Linked DNA regions of Homo sapiens: region 1 is linked to region 2. The links come from fine-mapping of genetic effects on gene expression. A gene starts in region 2. The other region holds a variant in brackets. All regions are shown on one strand. Distances are between the middles of the regions.

Region 1 (2,925 bases), 130 kb before region 2:
TCACAGTAGCAAAATTGTGGAACCAACCCAAATGCCCATCAATCAACGAGGTGATAAAGAAACTCTGATATATATGATGATGGGATACTACTCAGCCATGAAAAGAAATAAATTAACAGCATTTGCAATGACCTGGATGAGATTAGAGACTATTATTCTAAGTGAAGTAACTCAGGAATGGAAAATCGAACATCATATGTTCTCACTGACATGTGGGAGCTAAGCTATGAGGATGCAAAGGCATAAGAATGATACAATGGACTTTGGTGACTTGGGGGGAAGTGTGGGAGGGGGCACGGGATAAAAGACAACAAATATGGTGCAAGGTATACTGCTAGGTTGATGGGTGTACCAGGTTCTCACAAATCTCCACTAAAGAACTTACTCATGTAACCGAATACCACCTGTACCCCAATAACTTATGGAAAAATAAAATTAAAAAAATTAAAATGCCACTTTTATTTAAATTTTGCTGAATGTTAAACAGCAGCACTTAAATATTGGTTTGTAATAATTTCTAAAATGGGAACATTTTGAACAGCAACAATCAGCCATGCTTTTATATGTATGCCTGTATGTATGTGTGTGTGAAAATGGAAAAGAAATTGTGTTTAAAGTTTTCGACTTATAGTCTACTTTTGCCCCATGCTCTGTTGATAATATCACTGTTTTAGGCCTACTCATTTAATCAAACTGTGAAGTTTTCTTGAGCATGTGTTTAAATCTTAGGGAAAACATTAAATCCATTTCAGACTGTAAACTCTGTGTGGACAGGAACCACACTTATTCTCTAGGACACATTCAGAATCTGGCAAGTTGCCCTCTGAGTTCTTTCAATAGTCATCCAATAAAGTATGAATCAAGCTTCTATTTTGTGCCACCTGATGAGCACAGCCAACAAAGACCAGGTTACCAGCTCCATGGGGCTTACAGTCTTGCTAGTTAGCACTTAAAAGCCAATTAATAAATGAAGGAAAGAAGGGAGGGAGGGAGGGAGGAAGGAAGGAAGGAAGGAAGGAAGGAAGGAAGGAAGGAAGGAAGGAGAAAACAAAAGAAGAAACATTATTTAAAAAAAAACACCAGGTTTGGTGAAACTGAGTGTTTTCTCATGATGTCTGTCCAGTTTCTTATAGCATGCTTATTTGTGCATTCGCTTTCAATTAGGACCATTTGGGAAGTAGAATTTCATCTTTCATCAGATGTTTAAAGAGACCGCAAAAAAATCAAAACCTTGAAAATAATTTTAATAACGCTTATAACCAGAGGGCAAGTAAAGTTTGAATTAAATGTTCAAATGTAATACAATATATTCATTTCATATAATTCATAATATGAACTCCCTGTTTTTTTATGTTTCTCCCTACCACTAGATAGGGTTCCTTGAGGGCAGTGATGGCGTCTTTTTCATCTTAGTATCCCCAGCACCACCCAGCATGGTGTCTGCCACTTAGTTAGAACGTGAAAACATTTGTTGTCTAAATGAATGCATGAATGTTGAATGACTTCTTGCGTCTTAAAACACAGCATACAACTTTGC[C/T]AGTTTTAACGTACAATGACAACATTTACCTAAGCCTGACTCCCATGAGAACATTATACTACTTCTTCCTTTATAACTCAAACTAGTTTAATTAGCATGCATTGAACACTAATCCAATACAATGTACCCATTCAGACTCTTGTCTGGCTTGTAAAAGATTTCAAACACAGAGTAACAAAATGTTACTCCTGAAAAAGGGAGCAAAATCAGAATAAACAGAATAAAAAGACTTGGAAAATGTATAGATGCCTTCAATCACGGTTGATCTTGTTTTTAAGATTCTTTGACTTGCGCAATATTTAAAAGCCACAGAGGAAAGCAAAAATTTGGTAAGTAAAGCCTAATTCTTTTCATGTTAAAAGTTAAGCAGATGCAAGAGACTCCAGCAATAATGGATGTGCCATCGACGCATTCAAATGCAGATGACTAATTTATTCAAGCTGTATGTTAGCTTCCTTGTGCTCATTAGTTGTTGTAATGGACAGACATATTCTGGGAATTACTAATGCTCTGAAATAGGAACAGGGGCTGGTAAGAGACACTGGCTAATGAAGCCAGACGTTTTAAAAGATTATTTTTTCTGTAAGTGGAAGAAACAGTGATTACAAGTGCTTTATTCTTCCTCTCCTGCTTGCAGATTTGTGACTACATTTAACACCTTAAAGAAAGAGCTTTTTAGGACAGATACACATGTATGATTTCTCATTTTACTCAGTAAATCATTTTACACCTCACTGAAAGTCCTGAATTTCCACCACTATTAATAGCATTTTCATAAGGATATATAGCTGTATTGGCCACTGGCCTGACTTGGTATGATGCATTCCATGAAGTTACATGTTTGCTTTTTGTAAACCTATGCCCTGAATTACAGACTGCTATTTAAAAGCATATAAAGATGCAAGCAAATCCATTATAATGGGATTGAATGTATCTGTATGGATAGTAAAAGTTTAAAACTGAAATGTACAAGTGTTCAGAGAAAGCCTAATTTCACTTCCAGAGAAAAGACTTCACAGAAATGAGATTCCATGAGTTCCTAAAACTACCCAGGAGAGCACTCTGGAATATTCAATAGTATATAGCACTTTTTAGTTTATAAAGCACATTCATTTATGATCTATCTGATTTATTTCTCATCTAAACCTTGTTATAACAACTGATACTTTTGTTTACATATGAGGCGCCAGGCTTCCTATTAAGAACTTAAATGCATTGTCTTTGCCTGTGAGGTAGATATCACTATTCCTCTATGTTAATTAGGGTAAGTCAAACTGCTATAACATACAGTCTGAATATTCAATGGATTTGAAAGAAATGTATACTGGAGTAGAAGTTCCCCATTAGAAATAGCTCTGCATCATGCTGACATTTAGGAACCGAGGCTT
Region 2 (2,925 bases):
ATATTTGATTAGTAAGAGTAGAATCCTCAACACTCTGTTGACTCAAGAATCTCCTGAAATCAGGCGGTTTGTTCCCACTGTTTTGAATTTAGGTCTTTTTCAACTAGTATTTATGTTCAATAAACAACTTAACATAGCTGTTTTAACCTTCCTTGTTATTCAAGAAAGCAAAGACCACAGCTCTCAACTTATATGGGATAGCCAACCCGGAGGCTATTCTCAAGGTTGTTTTAAAATCTTCAGCTTTAAAAATTTTATTTGCTGAATAATTCAAATACAGAATCTTATATGTCTATCACTTCCCAGTGGGATCTTCTCAAGGCAATTCATGAAGCAGTTTGCAGAAGATAAATTACATTTTTTTGAAAACTGTGAGTTATAAGATAAAGAGCACATCACTGTCACACGCAATTAGGAGAGACTAAGATGTTACCTGCTTTAAACTTGTATTTAACAATTCTCTTCTCCTTTTTTTCCTTAGGGGAAGTGATTCAGTTAGACAAATTCTTAGTCGTAAAGCTCAGCAAAGACAGATGTCAGCCAGCTTTAGTTCAGTTGAACAATGTGGGGGTTAGGATGCTGATCCCTGCACAGTTGAAAATTCATGTATAACTTTTGACTCTCCCAAAACTTAACGACTTATAGCCTACTGCTGGCCAGAAGCCTAACCAATAACACAATTAACACATATTTTATATGCTCTGTGTATTATATACAGTATTCTTACAATAAAGTAAGCTAGAGAAAAGAAAATGTTATTAAGAAAGTCATAAGGGGGATGAGTGCAGTGGCTCATGCCTGTAATCCCAGCATTTTGGGAAGCTGAGGCAGGTGGATCACTTGAGGCCAGGAGTTCCAGACCAGCCTGGCCAACATGGCGAAACCCCATCTCTACTAAAAGCATAAAAATAAGCGGGCATGGGGGCACATGTTTGCAATCCCAGCTACTCCAGAGGCTGAGGCAGGATAATTGCTTGAACCTGGGAGGCAGAGGCTGCAGTAAGTTGAGATCGCGCCACTGCACTCCAGCCTGAGCGACAGAGTGAGACTCTGTCTCAAAAAAAGAAAGGAAGGAAGGAAGGAAGGGAGGAAATACCTGGAGGGGGCGCCTGGGCTTTGTATTATTTTGTTTTGGGAAAGAAAAGAAAGAAGAAAAGAGAAACGAAATGAAAAGAAAATAAAATCATAAAGAGGAGAAATACATTTACTATTAGTTAAGTAGAAGTGGACAATCATATAGGTCTTCATCCTCATCTTCACATTGAAGGGACGGAGGAGGAGGAGGAACGGTTGGTCTTGCTGTCTCAGAGGTGGCAGAGGTGGAAGAAAATCTGAGTATAAGTGAACCCATGCAGTTCAAACCCATGTTGTTCTAGGGCCAACTGCATTTTTAAAATAACTGCTTTGGAAGATCTGTGTGTATGTGTGTGTATGATCTGAGAAATTAGTTAGAAGAAAAGAGGAACGAGGAGTAGAAAAATACCAGCATTTCTGATGGTCAGTTTCTTTTAATTATAGAGAGAATTCAGCGTTCACCAAAGTTGGCTTAATTACTCATTTTCTCAGTAGAAAATTTCTAAGTGTGGGGTTTGACTGATTTTTACAGAAAGAGAATAGAAGTCTTTCAAATTTGTGGGTAAGAATGATTCACCCTTCTTGCTTTTGTTAAGAAATAATTGTGAATGTTAAATTACATTAATTTTGCTGCCTGAATTGAGTTTTGAATGCTTGCTATTTCTTTCTCAGCCAAAGGATATTTAAAATGATGCCAATGGAACTCATTGATTTTAACTACAATATTTGTTGAAAACAAATACGTATATCAAGGTTACTTCATATGTCTTTTTCAAACAAAATCTCTTCCTGTGGGTGGATGTTTAACAGAAATTACACTTAGGTATTGCCAAACTTCAAAGAAAGGAAGACTTACTCATCTTTTGGATGGAGAAAGGATTCATTTACCAGACCTGACTTGGTGATTGCAGATCTTTGACTGAATTGCCTCGGAGTCTAGATTTCTCTGATAAAGAAAGACTCATTCAAACTCAGTAAATCACAAGAAAAAGAAAGAAAAATGGGGAGGAGGGAATGGGATCAATATTCTAAAAGTCTAGGATTCTAGTTTAGTTTAATTTTATAGTTATATGATGAAGAAGAGAGGAGAAGCCTGGCTAGAAAGGTGGATGTTTGTCACTCAATTAATGTTTTTTTGCTTTTACCCAATTCATGTTCTTGAAGCTGCTACATTTACTGACCTACAATAAGTGTAGAGAGGATGAACTATATTGATAATCCTGTTTATTGACCAGATTGAATACTCAGGTTTGATTTTTGCATTTTTGGATATGTTTTAAAGGTAGAAGATCTTAAATTCATATTCAAAATACCTTTTATCCTGCCTTTCACTTAAGGAAAATTATCTGGAAATTGAAAGTCCTCCAGGCAAAGGTCTGGCTGTGATATTACTTCTGGGCGACACTTCTCACAAGAGGGAAGATAAGTAAATTGCTCTGACTGCTTTTTATTCTTGAGGTTCCTGCTCCCCCCAATCCCCTGCCTGCAAAGTTATTAGATAAGTAAAATAAGGTTGAAGAAACATAAGGGATAGTCTTGGAGAGGAAATGAAGTTTTTAAAGAGCATCCAAAAAACGTGAGGGTGGGGGAAGAGATCTAGAACCCTATATGGTGAGGGAGGTTGATGGGGGAAGAGGGTTTGAAATTGGATATTTCCCCTATTCCAATTCATTTGCCTTGGATACACCTGGAGGGGGCACCTGGGCTATGTTTTATTTTGTTTTGGCATGAATTGGACAGGTACTTCCTTCTCCATTAGCTCCCTCCCTAAGTTACAGCTCCTCCATCAGCTTGGGTTCTATTAATGTACTAAATTCCTGGGCAGTTGTCCAGTTCCCCCCATTGTAGGGA

Alleles and levels. Alleles are on the strand shown, and positions count from the first base shown. SD is a standard deviation of normalised expression in the study named.
As copies of T replace C in region 1, the expression in prefrontal cortex of the gene that starts at base 1,603 in region 2 goes up (small effect, 0.32 SD a copy in CommonMind).

Evidence for each region. PIP is the estimated chance that this variant, and not a neighbour inherited with it, causes the effect. A credible set is the group of variants that fine-mapping cannot tell apart.
Region 1: its variant is the best candidate, but not a certain one, in a credible set for the expression of SLC39A12-AS1 in prefrontal cortex (CommonMind, PIP 0.67).

The regions. Positions count from the first base shown.
Region 1 is chr10:18,135,203-18,138,127 of GRCh38, reverse strand. No RefSeq gene overlaps it. Among named protein-coding and RNA genes, the nearest start is that of CACNB2, 3.8 kb to the left of the region's middle. RefSeq lists an enhancer at 1,239-2,205. The variant C/T (reference allele first, on the strand shown) is at 1,538.
Region 2 is chr10:18,009,240-18,012,164 of GRCh38, reverse strand. It overlaps SLC39A12-AS1 (SLC39A12 antisense RNA 1), which reads left to right and starts at 1,603. Exons shown (of 5, transcript NR_038419.1): 1 at 1,603-1,636; 2 at 2,412-2,500. All of the region lies in intron 12 of SLC39A12 (solute carrier family 39 member 12), which reads right to left.